5 separate regions of the Homo sapiens genome follow, and regions 1, 2, 4 and 5 are each reported to be linked to region 3. The links are microRNA targets in miRTarBase. Many come from high-throughput screens and were not tested one by one. Region 3 holds a microRNA gene; each other region holds the end of a gene's coding sequence.

The links. The annotated mature microRNA hsa-miR-576-3p reads AAGAUGUGGAAAAAUUGGAAUC and lies in region 3 at 2,296-2,317, opposite strand. An mRNA with a match to its seed (bases 2 to 7 or 8) in the 3' UTR can be bound and repressed. Matches are read on the target gene's strand: a 7mer-m8 pairs with bases 2 to 8, a 7mer-A1 pairs with bases 2 to 7 and ends in A, and an 8mer does both.
Region 1: the mRNA of YTHDF1 is a reported target of hsa-miR-576-3p. Seed matches in the 3' UTR shown: 7mer-m8 at 1,596-1,602.
Region 2: miRTarBase lists TRAM1 as a target of hsa-miR-576-3p. Seed matches in the 3' UTR shown: 7mer-m8 at 1,965-1,971.
Region 4: the mRNA of SCARA3 is a reported target of hsa-miR-576-3p. Seed matches in the 3' UTR shown: 7mer-m8 at 2,274-2,280.
Region 5: the mRNA of AIRE is a reported target of hsa-miR-576-3p. Seed matches in the 3' UTR shown: 7mer-m8 at 2,265-2,271.

Annotation. Positions count from the first base shown.
Region 1 is chr20:63,193,947-63,197,565 of GRCh38, reverse strand. YTHDF1 (YTH N6-methyladenosine RNA binding protein F1) reads left to right here. Exons shown (of 5, transcript NM_017798.4): 5 at 832-2,137. The coding sequence ends at 858. Among named protein-coding and RNA genes, the nearest start is that of MIR124-3, 17 kb to the right of the region's middle. RefSeq lists an enhancer at 155-449.
Region 2 is chr8:70,572,062-70,575,680 of GRCh38, reverse strand. TRAM1 (translocation associated membrane protein 1) reads left to right here. Exons shown (of 11, transcript NM_014294.6): 11 at 676-2,463. The coding sequence ends at 749. Among named protein-coding and RNA genes, the nearest start is that of TRAM1, 35 kb to the left of the region's middle.
Region 3 is chr4:109,487,450-109,491,068 of GRCh38, reverse strand. It overlaps MIR576 (microRNA 576), which reads right to left and starts at 2,371; the gene lies at 2,274-2,371. The region is part of intron 4 of SEC24B (SEC24 homolog B, COPII component); the gene reads right to left.
Region 4 is chr8:27,670,620-27,674,238 of GRCh38, reverse strand. It overlaps SCARA3 (scavenger receptor class A member 3), which reads right to left. Exons shown (of 6, transcript NM_016240.3): 6 at 1,221-3,339. The coding sequence ends at 2,888. Among named protein-coding and RNA genes, the nearest start is that of MIR3622A, 29 kb to the left of the region's middle.
Region 5 is chr21:44,296,858-44,300,476 of GRCh38, reverse strand. AIRE (autoimmune regulator) reads right to left here. Exons shown (of 14, transcript NM_000383.4): 14 at 1,829-2,821. The coding sequence ends at 2,750. PFKL (phosphofructokinase, liver type) reads right to left here and starts at 424. Exons shown (of 22, transcript NM_002626.6): 1 at 287-424. The coding sequence starts at 371. RefSeq lists silencers at 1-181, 202-871 and enhancers at 1,969-2,078, 2,409-2,468, 2,839-2,898.

The sequences.
Region 1 (3,619 bases), not on the chromosome of region 3:
GTGCTCCTTAGATCGCACATTTTCATCTTTGTATGCTGCCTTGTAAGGAGACTGAAGGGGCTTCTAGACCCTGCTACTCAGGGAGGCCAGTGTGGGAAAAGATTCGGGTGTAAGTCTCAAGCTTGTGTGTCACATACACTCTGGAAAAGATGATTCTCTTACGGGAGTGGGCAGCAAACCTGGTCAGAGGAGCTTTGCCTTGAGCCAGTCTAGCCGTGGGGGAGTGGGGAGGGGCATGCTCTTCCCCTTGGCGTGGGAGTGAGCTGGGGAGTGGGAAGGGCCTGAACTGGACAGGCCCACACCGGTCCTCCTGCCCTTCATTAGCCACATGACACAGCACCTTGTTAGCCAGTTGGAAGGATTTTGGTGTCCTTTGTGCCACTGAGAAGTTTAAATGAGATAAAATACAGAAGAACAGCTTCTGTCTCCCTGGCCTCCTTGAGAGCCTGGTGCGTGCCAGCTCCTCCCTCTGAGTGCAGAGAATTTCACATTGCTAAGTGTCTTTCCATGTGGAATGATAGTGGCACATGAGGGAAAGACAGCTGTGGGAAGTGAGGCTTCCCAGCAGACAGGTGGCCCATGTGACCGTTGTGGTTGATGCTTTTCTCCTGGTAGAGGGGGTGGGGAGAATGCCATGCCCAGTGTGGCCAGTCCCCCACAGAGCAGGCCCCAGTGCAGCTCAGAGTTGTGTGCTGGTGTGGCTTGGGTACCATTCAGGGTCCCGCCTCCAGATTTGCAGGTGCTGCTAAGGGGCAGCCTCGGATCTCACTTTTGGGAGGGATTCATTGGTGTGGTTACTCTGCGTTCAACTTTTGTTTTTTCTTTTTACAGGAACGGCAGAGTCGAAACAAACAATGAGGGCGAACCAGTTTCTTACATGTTCTAACGTTTGACTTTGAAAACAGTTTAAAACACGTGTGCTTGGTCAGCTCCAGTGTGTCGTCCCGTGCGGGGGTTGAGTGTTGCATCTTTGCCTTTCTTGTCGTTGATTTTTGCCCAGATGGATCTGCATTTATTTGTACTTTTTCTATGTATTATAATCCTGTAGAAGTCACTAATAAAGGAGTATTTTTTTTGTCAGCTTATCAATCAGACTGATCTAATGTGAAATGTAAGTATCCTTAAAAACAAAGCATCTATTTTGGCAGAAATTGTGTTCTTAAATTCAGTCATTTGATATTCTGTGAGACTTCATATTTCTCATCCCTTTATTGCTTTTTAGCAAACATAAGAAACCATGAGTCATTTTGTCATTTAGAGTATTCTGATAAAATCTCTTGAAAATACTGAAATCAAAAGGTTAATGATTTTTTGTTCATTCTGATTTGTCATTTTATTATCTGTTATCGGTCTAAAGTGCTAATTTACCCATTTGATTTTTCTGCTAGACAGATAACTTTTAATTTTTCAAATTTGGCAGACACTTTTTTTTTTTTTTTGAAAATCTTTCCTTCCAGATCTGTTGCCCACTGAACAGCCACCCGTCCCTCACTGTCCTGGTGTCCGATTGGGCTGGATGGTGTTGGGGCATGATGTGTGGAGGAACTGGAAGGTGCTTTAGGTCTGGTTCAGGGTCGGGCATTCTTTGTTGTTTGCACATCTTTTTAAATTTTACACCTTTTCTTAAGAATTCTAATGCCGTCTTAAGTTTTTATACCAATAATGCTGAGCTTTAAGTGTAGGATCTGGTAGTACAGACAGTGTGATGGATGATGCTGCTGGTTGTAAATTTCATCGTGTGTGTCTAATTTTTTTTCCTGTTGAATGGGTAAAAACAAAACAAAACTTTTTTTAGAAGATGAATTTGCTGTCATGTTTTGTGGAATGAGGGACCGTTGAGCTCACTACCACCTGGAGTTTGAGTTGAAGCATGAAAATGGTGCCCATGCCTGACGCTCCAGCGCCTGGATCTGCACGTGCCCTTGTAGAGGATCCTTACCGTCCTAGAGAGCAGACGCTTTCTGAAAACTACTTGCTCCAAAAGACCCTCTGAGTTAACGTTTCAGCTGTATCATTAGACTTGTATTTAGAGCGTGTCACTTCCTCTGAACTGTTACTGCCTGAATGGAGTCCTGGACGACATTGGGTTTTTCCTCTAGGAGAATACAAGCCTTAATAAACAATACTATTTAGCAAACTTGGTGTCACCTCATTCTTCACCCTACTTGATGAGTTTATGTGTTGGAGCTTTTTAAGCTGCAGAGCCATTCGGGGAGTCACCGTAGAAAGCCCTGTGTTTCTCAAGGTGTGGGATTCTCGTTCCCTCGCTTTGGAAGAGGGAGCTGTTAATTTCCTTAAGACTATAAACTACATGGCACCGTCACCCACCCCTCATCACATGAATGTGCAGACGCAGCGGTGCGTGCAGCACCTGGGCACCGCTACCCCCTTTCTGGACTTGGCTCCTCACCGTCTCTCTCCATTCATCCTCCAATGCCTCTTATTATTTATGCAATAAGAGTTTAATACCTGTTTAGTTTGTTTTCCTTTTGAGGTAAAATTTATAAGCAGTGAAATGCACATTGTGTACATCTGCAGAAGTTGACAAGTATGTGATAAAGTTATGCAATATTAGCCTCAGCCCAGAAAATCCTGAGCTCAGGCAATCCGCCCGCCTTGGCCTCCCAAAGTACTAGGATTACAGGCACGAGCCACCACACCCAGTCTGTGAAGAGATTTTTTTAACAGAATTTTTAAGAGAATGCAATGCAAAATACAGAGTTCTTAATTTTTCCAGTTTTACATTTGAGGGGTAGGGAGGAAATGTTAATTCTTAAGAGTAGGATCTGCATATCCAGGTCCTTAATCCAAATACTCTGGAGCCTTCTCGGGACAGGGAACACCACATCTGCTTTTGAGAGCAGCCACGGTTGAGGAGGCTGGTGGTTATTCCAGTGCCCAGCAAAGTTTATTATTAACCGGAAGACACATTCAGTCCATTTTTAACAAAAGAGGAGGTTTCAGGTTAAATGGGTGTCCCGCCCGCTGGTTTTATTAGTTTGCATCTTGATAGATAAGGGGGCCAGATGAGGATGGCATCTTTCCCAGGCAGTCACCACCTCTGCCAGAAGTTAGTAGTTGGTTTAAGGAAACACAAAATGAGAACGGGAAAACGTGTCTGTTCTGACAGGCCAGTTAGAGGTAGGCTGTGTGCTCCCACCTGCAGCTCCAAATGCTGCTGTCATTTTAGGGAAGTGTGTTTTCAACCTCGAGTGGCTAATTCCTTCATTTTATGCCATTTTCTTGCTTGTATTCAAGTCCTGGCCTCCTTTAAAGATGAGTTCCCGGCTTTCAGAATGCTGAGCCGAGAGGTGCTGAAAGGTGGCAAGCATGACGACAGGTGCCATGCTTTATCTTTGTTGTTTCGTTGTTGTGGAAGAAGTGGATGCTGTTGTCCCCACAGAGTGGGAGGTGGTGGCAGGGACTCTGGCAAGTGGTAGTTGCTGACTGGCTTGTGAATGGATAGTGGATTGGGCGGTCTAGACAACACCTCCCCTGAGGCCTCCAAACCGGAGGAGGCAGTGGCTTCTCCTTCTGCCAACTTGGAAAGTTTTGTAGAACTGACACCGTGTCTGGGTGTTTGGGGCCTCCTGCCTGCATTCGTGGTGCATGGTAATGC
Region 2 (3,619 bases), not on the chromosome of region 3:
CATCCATTTCTGTATGCAACTTTTGTATTTTTGGAGAGAGAGTCAGTCACACATACGCTACTCCATCATAGCTTGAAGAAGGCCATTACTATTAGCCAGGTGTGGTGGCACATGCCTGTAGTCCCAGCTATTTGGGAGGCTGAGGTCCCCGGGAGCATCACTGGTCCCCGGGAGTTCAAGACTGCATTGAGCCATGATCGTGCCACTACACAGCCTTGGTGACAGAGTGAGACCCTGTCTCAAAAAACAACAGTAACATAAATAAATAAAAAGAAGGCCATAATACACGCCTCCACATAGAAATTATCCTAAACACCAACTTTACTATATTGTAAACAAATATCCCCAAGGACTTCGCTGTCAAATGTGAAAAGTTTCTTTATTTCTACAGAAGGTATTTCTCTTGAATACTATTTTTAAATTCTTGTGACTTTATAGTTTTCTGTGCTGTCACTTTTTTCTGCTTTTAATAGTAGTTTTCTTTTAATTTGCTACTTTCAGTTCATTGTGTTAAAAATGTTACCAGGTTTTGTGATTGGTTAAATACTGGTAAGTAAATTTCACCTGAGTGAATTGGATTTTACATTTTCTTTTCTGAAGGTATCTTTACATATAAAGATTATAACTTGCATTTATTTATAAAAGAGAGTAACATGGATTCTTTTCTTTTTGCAGAAAATGGTGTGAATGGAACATTAACTTCAAATGTAGCAGACTCTCCCCGGAATAAAAAAGAGAAATCTTCATAATGAATTATAAACTAATTGATTAATGTCCCCAAAGAAATCTGCTTTCTACTATATCTTTCAGCATTAGAGATTTTTCTGTTCTTGAAAATACAGTCTGTGCTCTTTGATTTTTGCTATTGTACGGTTTCATGCATTTTTTTAAAGGGCATTTGAGGGGAGGATTATTGCTATGAATGAAAAAAATATTTTAGCTTAGACTAAGCTACCTGCCTTCAAAATAGTTTAGGGACCACCACCATATTTTATTTTGTTTTTATTTTTGAACATTTTTCTAATGATTTGGAGAGAAAACTATTTACAAAAATTCCACATATCAGTGATACAATTTCTTGCTGTCACCAATTTTTTATAATAGCAGAGTGGCCTGTTCTAAGAAGGCCATATTTTTTAAGTTATCTTTCAGGGTAACATGGAAATACTATAAAGTTGGATGTCAAACTTTAATATGTTTTCAGTGTTCTCTAATTTTTTGGAATTTTTGTAGACTTTACACCTGGAAAAAAAGATTTGTAAAATCACCGGAACAATTGTGTGCTTTATTTTATAGGTAGTGGTTATTAGTATTACATCCCCATTTTAAAAACAAAAACATAATAATCGTTACAACACGTGGAGTTTTACTAACATACATATTAAATCAAAGTATATTCTTAAAAGTACTTGTGAAGTAAAATCTTTCTTGTGCATTTTCAATACTTGTAAACTGGAAATCAGAAAATATTTACTATGAACAGGAAAATCTGACATATAGCCCTTTTTGATATGTTTATTAATAATGATTCTTAATGGGGCTCATAATAAGTTTAATATGCACAGCATCTTAGAAAAGTTTAACCTGCAAACACTTTTAAAACATAATGCCTACTTGATTTATATCTATAAAAAGACTGACAGGTAATTATATTTGGAAAACATTTAATGCACTAACTTTAAAGAAATTGAAAATTCAGGTGGATAAATAGTCTTACAAAAGACAATGTGCTTTATGTTATACCTATAGCTTTGGTCCCATCTTTAATTGAGAAACATTTATCTGTATAAAACATATTTTTGGATAAATATATATATATATATTTGTATCTCTACAGAAAGGCTCTAAAAAGCATTTGAGGAAAATATTTGGTTCCCTTTTCTATAATCATCCTTTAAGATTCTTATAGCTACATTTGGTTTATTCATCATATTTACAGTATATATATTGTTCTTTTCAGTGTTCACATCTTGTTCCCCATTTCTCACTTGTGTCACCAGCTGTTTGTGCCATTTTTAGTGTAAAAGTTGCAGACCTATTAGATCTGCAGTTTAAGTTGCCATGCTGCTAGGAAATTGTCCTTTTTCTTTCTAGCTGTTAACCTACTTCCTGGAAAAAGTAGTAGCTCTCTGTAGCATTATGGAGTTTCAGTGGAACCAAATTTTTGCCATTAAAAACTGGCATTATACTGAACTATACATTGAGAAATCAATCAAAATAAAAATTTTTACTTTCACAAGTTGTATCCTGGATGTTTCTGTCATTGTTGGTGTTTAGGCTATTTTGGTATATAACCTCATTAAAATGTACCATATTTAAAACACTTCATAGACATTCAGAATAACCCTTTTCAAAATTGTGTTCTGCAAATAAACAGATTTGTTCCACAGAATATTGGTGAGGACTACTGGGGGGATAGATGGTCATAACCAAATAAATCTGGGAATCACTGGATTAAACTAACCTAAAGGTGTCTCTTTATTATGGGACCGTTCAGTCCTTAATATGCAAACGTGTTTCCTGGTGCACCAAGAATGTTGGATATAATATGCAGTGTTTCCCACCTTATTTGCCTGTAGAATTTTCTGTTCACTGAATTACTATAGCACTTTGTTTTCTGCAGCATACACTGTGTTTAGGCAAAGAAAAAAAAAAGCCCTTGACATGTCATTACCAAGGGCTAATATATACACAGAAGCACATATACACACAAGTATGATTATAAATTATGAGCCCTACATCCTGCTCTCAAATGTGCTGAGGAAAGTCTGTACTGGCTTCCAGATCCTGCAGAGCCTGCCATTATCACCTGGGCTCAAGTCGAGCTTCAAAGCATGATGGGAATCCTGTAGGGACCCACACCTGGACAAGGCTCATGGCTCTGTCTTAAACCCGGGGGGACCATGAATTAGTTGCTTTGCTACTCTGGGGTTTAGTCTTTCCCTCCACAAAATGCCTCCTGCATTTTTTTTAACTGTAAATTGACAATTTATAATTGTACGTGGGGGTACAAAATGGTGTTATGATTTATGAGTATAATGGAATAATTAAGCTAGTTAACATCCATCACCTCAAACACTTAACATTTTTTGTGATGAGAACATGGAAATTTAGTTTTGAAATGTATAATGCTGTTATTAACTATATTTACCATGCTGTGCAGTAGAACTAAAAAATTCCTTCTGCCATATTTTACACCCTTTGACCATCATCTCCCCATTCCTCTCAGCCCTGAGCCTTTGTAACCGTCATTCTACACTCTGATTCTGTGAGTTTGTTTTAGATTCCATATATAAGTAAGTATGTGCCATATTTGTCTTTCTGTGTCTGATTTACTTCACTTAGCATAATGTTCTTCAGTTTCATCCATGTTGTCACAAATGACAGAATGTCTTTTTTAAAGGCTGAATAGTATTCCATTGTGTATATATACCCCATTTTCCACATTTTCTTTAGCCATTCATCTGCTGATAGACATTAGGTTGATTCCATAACTTGGTTATTGTAAATTTAGTGCTACAGTGAACACAGGGCTGCAAACATCTCTTCGACACACTGATTTCAAATCTCTTCGACACACTGATTTCAAATCTTTGGGTTGAATTCTCAGAAGTGGGAT
Region 3 (3,619 bases):
AGATATTAAACTATTAAAACTAGTCAAACACATAAACAAAAACTTTAGGTTGATAGAAATGTTAATATAGTCACATCTTAAGGATTACATCTACCAAATATACTACTAAATATATTTTATCAATATTAGGGTATTTTAAGGTAATTAAATTTTAATGACTTTTATTTATATCATAGCACACTGAGACATTCATAAATGAGGAGTCTGTGGCTTAGGTTGCTATCTGGCATGCTACTAAGCTTTTCTGTGTCTCAGTTTACATATCTGCAGAATAGAGATTAAATAACACCTGCCATATTTAATAAGGTAATATAAATGAAAGGCACACTAATTCATATAAATGTTAGACTATAAGAATTTTCATTATGTGTGCTCATTCAAAACCTGTTAAGATGAGAGTTCAGTGACAATTTATGATGAAATGTGGTCACAGGTCACATGAAAAGAACAAGCAATATACTTCTTCCATTCATTCAACAAATATTTTGAGACCTACAATTATCCTGGGTACGTATGCTAGCGTATATTATGATGAATAAAATAAAAAATCTGCATGATCCTTCTATTATGTTAGAGATCTTGCTTTGTTTCACAGTAAGACAAAATTCTGTGCTACAGAGGTTATCCCTTGCTATTAATACCAGTATTATAACTGGTGTTTAAACTACATTTAGGTTAATTTTCAATTGTAATAGGGAAGGAACAGGTATGCATAATTATTTTTCATTGAATAATTTTAGATGAACATGAGAATCAGGTATACCGACTCAGGGCATAATAGCTGATGTTTTTTGTGTAGGAACATTTTCTTATCAGCAAAGAACATGATTTGGAGGCAAAGACTGCAGTTACATCAACTCCATCATTTACTTGCTATGTAACTTTGTGGTTCTTTTCTCCTAAGAATAAGTGAAGGTAACTTGCTATATAACTCTTCTGCAAAATGCTAACGATTTTTTAAATGTCCTATGTGTGGTTTTTTATGTTCTTATAAGGTCTAAATGAGACAGTGGATATGAAGACACCCATTAAATAAGTAATAGGTAGAAGACACTAATATTTATGCAGTGCCTTCTTCGTGATAAGTAGAACAATTTTGCACATATATTTTTCCTCTTAATAAAGAATGGAAAGTAATGCCCTTTCCTTTGTGTTCCTTTTATTTGTGAATTTTAAACTAAAGCAGAATGCTGATATATCAGGTCAAAAGTCTCCAAATATTCATCAACAGATGAATGGATAAACAAAATATGGTATATCTATAAAATGGGATATTATTTAGCCATAAAAATGAAGTATGGATACACGCTACAATGTGAATGAAACCTGAAAATTTGCTTAAGTGAAATAAATCAAACAAAAAAGACCATATATATTATCATATGTATATATCACATGTATATATCATATATATACCATATATATCATATATATACCATATATATTATAATATATAATATATATAATTCTATTTATATGAAAGACCCAGGCTGAGGGGAGGGGAAAATGGGGAGTGACTGAGTGTAGGATTTTCTTTTGGGATGATGAAAATGTCTAGTACTTCACAAAATTAGATAGAGCTAAATAGAAGTGGGGACTGCACAACACTGTACATGTACTAAATGCCACTGAATTATACAATTTAAAACAGTTAATTTTATGTTATGCATATTTTTCCTTAATAAAACTAAACAATTTACCATGACATTTCAATGGGGAAATAATATTCTTTTCAGCAAATGGTGCTGGAACAACTAGACATATCCACACGCAGAAGAACAAAGCTGGACCCCTTCCCTACACCACAACTAACTCAAAATGGATCATAGACATAAAATGTAAGTGCTAAAACTATAAAACTCTTAGAATACAGGAATAAATCTTCATGACTAAATGAATTTTTAGATATGACATCAAAGGTACAAGCAACAAAAGAAAAAAGATAATTTGGACTTCATCAAAATTAAGAACTTTTGTGCTCTAAAGGTTACCGTATCATCAAGAAGTAAAAAGACAACCCACAGAATGAGAGTAAATATTTGCAAATCATATATCTGATAAGGGGTTAATATCCAGAATATGTAACAAACTCTTACAACTCAACAATAAAACAACAAATAACCAAATTTAAAATGGGCAAAAGATTTGAACAGATATTTATCCAAAGAAGATAAACAAATGACCAATAAACACATGAAAAGATGCTCAACATCACAATCCCATTAGGAAAATGAAAATCAAAACAACGAGATAACATTTCACATCCACTAGGATGGTTATAACCAATCGAATGAGGATTCCAATTTTTCCACATCTTTGCCAAACCTTATTACCAAAGACGTGGAGAAATTAGAATCCTCGTTGGATTGTAAAATGGTGCAGTTACTTTGGAAAACAGTTTGGCAGTTTCTCAAAAGTTAAATACAGAGTTCTGACCCAGCAATTCTACTCAAGAGAAATGAAAACATAAACCTACACAAAAACTTGTTGACAAATGTTCACAGCAGGAGTATTCATAACAGCCAAAAAGCAGAAACAACCCAAATGTCCATCAACTCATGAATGGATAAATAAAATGTGATACATTCACATATGGAATATTTTTTGGTAACAAAAAATAATAAAGTACTGACATATGCCATAATGTGGATGAACCTTGAAAACATTATGTTAAAAGAAAGATGCAAGTAACAACCACATATTATATGATCTCTACATATAAAATGTTCAAAATAGACAAACCTGTAGAGACAGAGGATTAATGGCTGCCTAGAGCTGCGTGTGGTTGTGCGGGGAGGGTAGAATGGGAAGAAGGCTAAAACATATGAAGTTTCTATTTTGGGGTGAAGAAAATGTTCTGGAATTACATAGTAGTGATGGTTGCTACTTTGTGAATATGCTAAAAACTGCAGAACAGCACAACTTAAATAGGTGAATTTTATGGTATGTGAATTATTTCTCAAAACTGCTATTAAAAATATCATGGGCATTCTAAGAAAAACTTTTAAATGTATATATCAAGAAATAACTACTCTTGAAAAAAAATAAAGTCCAAAGATAAAAGATTACTTATATATGAACTTATTCCAAAGAACATACTACTACTCAGTTAAGATGTTTAGTTTCTTTCATGTCAAATCAACTGTTAATATTTTAAAGATTGTTCATTTTAATAAGGCTATAAGTTTTAAAGTATTAATTTTTTTATTCTATTTTGTTTACTGAATAGTTTGAAATCTGCTAGTTTACTTTAAATTCACTTTCAGAAGAAAAAATGACTGCAAATCTCTATTTGTGAACCTGTCAAAATATCAAAGCAATGATAATTGTTATAAACCCAAATAAATCAGTAAGCTAAACAGACTCATGATATTTTGCTATTTAGATTAATGCGTTCTAAGTAACGCATTAATCAGAGGTCATGCCATTACTGGCAAATAAATCAAAAAGGTATTTTTATAAAACAGTACCTGATTGAAAACTTATGTGTTAACATTCTGAACATGCTTAGAAACAGCCTTTACTAATTTCCCCACCATCTTAGTGAATAAGGTGTAAATGCCTTCACACTGTCATAAAACAAACTTCAAAATTTGGCTTCTACTTGTCCTTTCCACCT
Region 4 (3,619 bases), not on the chromosome of region 3:
TCAAGCTTTGCAGTTCTAACTGTCTGTCCCCTTAAACCCCAGGTTCCGCTGTTTGGATTTCAGTAGTACCTAGAGCTGTCCAGATACTCCAAAGGGCCACATTAATACTAAGAGCAGTTTGATGACTTACGACAGGGAACAGGATTGGGGCGGGAACACTTCCCAAGAAATATGTGGTAGGAGGCTTCCTGAGGACCCTCACCAATAGGAAAGTAGCCTGAGAACTGGATCTACCACTAGCCAGAGACACCAGACTGGAGTTCCAGCCCCAGATGTGCAGCAAACCCCTCAACTGCTCTCAGTCCTTGGTTTGTCCCATGAGAAGTAAGAGACTTGAGCCTCAGACTCCCCCAGGTCCCTCCCAGCTCTCACAGTTCAGGGAGCGTGAAATGAGACATGCAGGGGCTGGTGTGCTGGCTACTCACCTGCAGAGGAGCACAGAGCACACCCACTGTGGCCCAGGAGGCTCTTCACCCATATAATAAGTCCCACCGTGACAATGGCTGATGTTTATGGTGTGTTGAACATTGTCAGGTGCTGTGGACATCTCAGATGTCAGTGGGGAGGAGGGACCTCATGCTACTCACTATAGAGGAAGCGGTGAGGTCCATGTGAGGCAGCCATGTTTGGCCCCATCCTCACCCCCTGCCCTTTTGCTCACTTCCTCAACTAAGCACCAACCCACCAAAAAAACTCCAAAAAAACCCAAAAAACAGGGCTCCAGGCTTGCACTAGGTCACATTTTGCCAGTGAGTGAGGCTGCTGTGCCGACTCACAGAGGATCCGGCTGTCCTCTTCCGTAATCCGCAGACCCTGCCAAGCCAGGCCCCTTGGGGCAGGTCTGGCCTGGTCTCTGCCTCCTTTCCTGTTCTATCTCCTTGTCTTGGAGACAAAAGCCAGAAGCAGGAGGTATCACTCACATGTCCAGGCCTGCCCTGTTTTCCAATCTTGTTTTAGCCAAAGAGCTCCAGGGCCAGGCTGCAAGATGCATTGGGCTTAGCATTTCCCCCTCTGTTCCTGCTCTCTCTGAGTAATTCCCTCAGACGCTCTTGGTCCCTGGCCGAACTCAGTGTTTCTAAAATGAGGTTAGACCCAACTCCAGTGAGATTGAATTTTTGGGGGACCCTCGTCACTGGTTCTCCTTCAGAGGCCCACCTGGAGTGCAGCCCTGAAGGCATCATGCCCCCAAGTCAGGCAGAAAGGACTCAAAGACACCTCACTCCTGGAAATAGCTCTTTACTGAGTCAGTAATACTATGCAGAATGGTATTATCATATGTGGACAGGAGAGTTACATGGCCGTGGGGTGTGCAGTGCAAACCAGTTGCACATCCAGGACAGTCAGGAGGGTGCGGAAAGGCTTTGAGCAGGGAAGGGCTGCTCTCTGGGTCCGTGTTGGGAAGGAGACAACTCTATGCCCTAACCTTGCGGGCGGTGGAGGGGGTGGTGCCTGAATCTGTTTGAACATGAAGGCAAAGCAGCTTTAGAGTGTAGCCAACAGGAGACCTCCACCCTGTGGGGTGATTTCCCAGCGCCCCTCTCTGCCAGTGTGTGCAGGAAGTTGGTGGGTGCCAAGGAGTGATGACAGAGGGGGCCTCTGTGAGTGTCCAGGCCCTTCCCACTCCTAGTCCAGCTGGCTGCCCATGCAAAGAGGGCTCGGGCCATTGTGGGTCCCGGTGGGACAAGGTCGGCATGCAGCTGTGATCAGGAGAGCCGTGTGCGGGAGGCGAGAGCTGCCCTGTTGCAAGGGGTTGGCCCTTCTGCAGCCTAATCCTCCCCACCACTCCAGAGGAGCCCCCTTGGGGAATGGGGCAGGCCAGCCTCAGGGAGAGCAAGGGAGGCAGCTGTGCAGAGAGAACCTTCTGGCCTGCCTCTGTCTCCCATCTCCACTCAGGCCCAATGTTCCAGGGCCTGCAGAGTGCCCCCATGCAGATGAAACTCCTGCTTGGATTCCTTCCAGGCTGCTCCTGAAGGGCAGAGGCAAGGATGAATTGAGGAATTTTCTGGACACGTGAAGAAATAAATGTTGAACTTCTCAGGGGGCACTGTGTGCAAGGCCAGAGAATGTCAGCCTCGTGGCCCCACTGTGCTGTGACAGACAGGGACAGCTCCCGGGTATGCTGGTCCCCTGCTTATGGGGAGGGTCTTGTGGTTGCCAGGTCCACTTTGCCTCTGGAGTTTTGGCAGTAACGCCCCACCCGCAAAGGTTTCCTTGGGGCTTTTCAACCCCAGGGAGCCCTGGGAAACTGCTGGCCAGCATGGGTGCCCAGAGACAGATGTGAGACCTTCCTCCCGAGGTAGCTGCCTCCCTGGCAGGCTCAGTCACAGGAGAGGGGGTCTTCCTCTGCCCTCTCCTCCTGCCCAGCCAGGGAAACCCAGTTGGCCCACCTGGCCAGCAGAAAAATCTGTGTATGTGCATGTGTATATATGTGTTTGTGTGCATGGATATGTGTGCAGTGCATGTGTGTGTGCGTACATGTGTGTGCCTGTGCATATATGTGTGCATGTGTGTGTGCATGTGTATGTGTGCATGCATGTGTGCCTGTGTATGTGTGCACGTGTATGTGTGCATGTGTGTGTGCGTGCATGTGTGTGTGCATGCATGTATGCCTGTGTATGTGTGCATGCATGTGTATGTGTGCATGTGCGTGTATGTGTGCATGTGTGTGCATGCATGTGTGTGCATGTGCACATGTATGTGTGAGGAGGGGCTGCTTTCCTATGGCACAGTCACTATGGGGGAGCCCAAAGCTGCAGGGTCAGCCCTGGGGAGCCCCCTCATTGGAATCAGAGGACCACAGCTGTCTGTAGGTGAGGCTTTCTGGGGCCTGGATCTGCTCTGCGCCCCTCCGGCATTCTGTGTGACAGTGGCTCTGCCACAGCCCTCCTCAGTAGAAGCTCTGGCTTCCTGGTGGACCTGGAGGCCCCGGGAGACCAGGGGGACCCTGGATCCCTGGTTCACCCTTAGGCCCCATGGCCCCCCGCTGGCCTGGTGACCCTGTCTTCCCTGCAATTCCCGGTTTTCCCTGAGGCCCTGAGGGCCCTGGAGACCCCGGGGGCCCTTCTGGCCCTGGGGGCCCTATGTCCCCTTTTGGGCCTGGCTGTCCTCTCGGCCCTCCAGTTCCAAAGCTGCCCTTTGAGCCTTTGAGGCCTGGGAACCCTCGAGGGCCAACAGGGCCCCTTTCTCCCACAGGCCCGGCCTCTCCAGGTTGCCCCTGAGGACCCTGGGGTCCCAGGGGGCCCAAGCTGCCGGGGTCTCCTTTCGGGCCTCTGCCGCCAACAGGCCCTTTCACGCCCATATCTCCTTTGAATCCTCTTGGTCCTGGAGGGCCGGGGGCACCTGAGGTTGGAGAGAAGATGGGAGAGGTCAGTCTGTCAGGGGCTCCCCACCCGAGGCTCGCCCATGAGCAGAGCGGGCACGGCGACAGCCCGAGGGTTGAACAAGTCCAGCGGACACTCATTTCTCACTGCAAGGCTTGCCGATAGCTCCACACACACACTGAGGTTAGGGAACAAGGGGCTGGCCAGCTTCGAGAAGCTCCGCACACACACTGAGATTAGGGAACAAGGGGCTGGCCAGCTTCGAGAAGGGGCCAAGGTTGTCCAGGATTGCCTGTCCT
Region 5 (3,619 bases), not on the chromosome of region 3:
AGGTCCTGCCCCGCGGCCCAGAGTCGGACACACCCCCGGGGCAGGGCGCGGGCGGCGCCAAGACCCAGGCGGAGGCCGAGAACGTGGCCGGCCGCACGTAGGCCGGAGACCGCGCCGGGGAAGAGCGGGGGACAGACCCGGGGCAGGAGGCCGGGGCGGGAGGCCGGGGCGGGAGGCCGGGCCGGCCCGAGACCCGGGTCCCGGGGCTCGGCGGGCGCTCCGGAGAGGCCAGGGCGGAGGCGCCCTCCACCCCCTGCGCCGCGACGCGGCCGGGACCCCCGCCCACCTTGCGCGTCGCCGCCGCTGGTCAGGACGCCGATGGCCTTGCCCGCGCCCGACGCCCGCAGCTTCTCCAGGTCCACCGCGGCCATGGCGGCGGCCGAAACACGGGCCCAGCTCGCACTCCCGCCGCCTGCGCCGCGTCGCCGTCCCCGCCCCGCCCCGCGCGCGCCTTCCGCCCGCCCCGCCCCGGGCCCGCCCCCGGCGCCTCCTCGCAGGACGGACCCTGGACGGAGCAGGGATCCTGCGCCCTCGGCCCGCCGGGGCCACCTTCCCGCTGTGCGTTTCTAAACCTGTGCAATGTCACGCGGGCCCTGAGCAGTGAGACCCCCCCCTCCACCCCGGTGGTCTCGAGGATGTGGCCGGGGACCAGGGCGGGGCTGGCCCCAGTGCGGCCGCACGCGCCCCTTCGCCAGCGCCGAGGCCCCGGTGGCACGTCTGGCCCGGCTTCGCTTCTCCGGAGGTTCCTTGCTGTCGGCCGCAGCCACCGCCCCTCCCTGCCCCCCAGGGGCCCTCAGGGCGCCTTCAGGCCTCAGCAGAGCGAAACCCAAACGAGGCGCTGGCGGAAAGCAGCCAGCACTCCTCCCTCCCTCTCCCTCCTTTCCTCCCCTCCTCCCTCACTTTTGCTGGGCCCTTGGGGAAGTCTTGGTTCCCCGGGCCCTGGGGGTGCAGAGCCGGTGTTCGGGAGAGCCGCCTCGTGACCGCACGGTGTGTTCGGTTTGTGAAAGCTCAGCGGGCTGATCGCTAGGATTTGAGCATTTTTCTCTACATATACGGTGGAAATGGTGGCTGTGAATATCAACTACTCCTTATTTAATTGTGAAATGTTAGAAAACACACCGAGAGACTGCGCAAGCACATATGCGTGGGCTAAAAGGCGCTAAGAAGACACCTGTGTCTACCCCTGAGGCATCCTTGTGCTGACATTTTGGGTCATTATTCTCTCCCTTTTCTTACAGCTTCATCACGTGTGTGTGTGTGTGTGTGTGTGTGTGTGTGTAAATTCTTAAACGTACATGGTTTAGCCACAATGAGGTACCACCTCATACCCATTAGGATGGCTACTATAAAAGAAAAACACAGGCTGGGCGCAGTGGCTCACGCCCATAATCCCAGAACTTTGGGAGGCCCGTGGGGTGGGGGGGGGGGGGGGGGGTGGATCACCTGAGGTCTGAGGTCAGGAGTTCGAGACCAGCCCAGCCAACATGGTGAAACCCCGTCTCTACTAAAAATACAAAAATTAGCCGGGCATGGTGGTGTGCGCCTGTAATCCCAGCTATGCAGGAGGCTGAGGCAGGAGAATCACTTGAAGCCAGGAGGCAGAGGTTGCAGTGAGTGGAGACTGCGCCATTGCACTGCAGCCTGGGCAGCAAGAGCGAAACTCCGTCTCAAAAAAAGAAGAAAAGAAAAGAAAGAAAAATGCAGAAAATAGTAATTGTTTCAAGGATATGGGGAGGCTGGAACCCTCATGCAGTGTTGGTGGGGATGTGAAATGGTGTAGCTGCTGTGGAAAACAGGATGGCAGTTCTTCAAAAAATTAAAAATATAATTACCATGTGATCCAGCGATTTTACTCAAAGACTCACACAGATATTTGCACACACATATTCATAGCAGCATTACTCACAACAGCCAAAAGGTGGAAGCACCCAGGTGTCTGCTGAGGAAAGCATAGATGAACACAATGCAGTCCATCCATGTGCTGGAATATTACTCAGCCTTAAAAAAGGAAGCAGATTTCGGCACATGCTACAACATGGATGAACCTTGGGGCCACCATGCTGAGTAAAATAAGACAGACACAAAAGGACAGATACTGTGTGATTCCACTTCCATGAGGTCCCTGGAGAAGTCATAGAGACAGAAAGTAGAGTGGAGGGTGCCAGGGGTTGGGAGGGGAATGGGGAGTGAGTGTTTCATGGGGCCAGAGTTTCCATTCAGGAAGCTGGAACAGCTCTGCAGATGGTGGTGGCAATGGTTACATGAGATGTGAATGCCACTGAACTGAAAAGTGGTCGAGATGATAAATTTATGTTATGTGGTTTTTTTGTTTTGTTTTGTTTTTGAGACGGAGTCTCACTCTTGCCGACCAGACTGGAGTGCAGTGGCGCAATCTCAGCTCACTGCAACCTCCACCTCCCGAGTTCAAGTGATTCTCATGCCTCAGGCTCCCATGTAGCTGGGATTACAGGCACCCACCACCACACCCAGCTAATTTTTATATTTTTAGTAGGTCACCAGGCAAGGAGAGGCTCCCGGGGACTTCCAGAGTAGAGAAGTGGGGCAGGGTTTAATTTCCAGGCACATGATGGCTGGTGTCCCCAGAAACACAGAGCTGTTTACAGCCGAGCACTGACAAGAGGTGGCGCTGTCCCCTTCTTGATCCCAGCCGGCCGGCTTCCAGGACTGAGGAAGGAGGTGTCCTTCTCAGCACTCTCTCATCAGAGCTGCATGTCCCGGCCATCTGGGGTCAGGAGGGGAAGGGGGCCGCCGGACGGGCCATGCTCTGGATGGCCCACTGCAGGATGCCATCGAAGGTGTGCTGCGGGACAGAGTGACGGTGAGAACCTCCAGGTGCGCCCCCGCCGCAGCCACAGAATCATGGCCATCGTTACAAGAAGTCACCATCCAACCTTCCCTCTAAGTCAAAGGTGGGGAAACTGAGGCCCGAGGCCCCATGGCACAGGCCAGTCTGGGGAGGACCCTGTCCTGTGCACTTCACCGTATTCCATCAAAGGTGGGGAAACTGAGGCCCAAGGTCCCCATGGCACAGGCCAGACCGAGGACCCTGTCCTGTGTACTTCACCACATCCTATAAGCCCAGGGCACATCCCCATGGCAGTTCATGGCAGTTCTGCCTCCTCGGGTGGCTCCTTCAGGGTGGGGGGGTCGGGGCCAGCTACTTATTCTGCTCAGGAGCCTGATGCTCCCACAGGATGGGGCCACGGGCCCCACGATGCCAGCAGAATAAGACCGCCACCCGGGAGAGGCTGTGAGCCCGTCGCTCATTTCTCCAGCTATACCCGGGGACCCCATCCAGAGGGGCAGCTCCATTACCCAGCGCTGGGCCCCCTGGCCCACTCTCAGGCCCTGGGGCTCTGCAGACACCTGCACGGTCAGGGTGTGTGGGGCACGGCCACTGCACAGGGCAGAACCCCTGCCCCATGGTCAGCTGGGACCCCCGGGTGCCACATCAGACACTGAGGAGAACCCGTGGAGGCTGAAGGAGCTTATCCTCTTGGCAAAAACAGACAGAGCCCTTAAAAGTCACATTTTCCCCACAGATTCTACCTGCCCATCTTAGCGTAGAGAGGCCTGAGTTGGGAGGGGCAAGCAAATC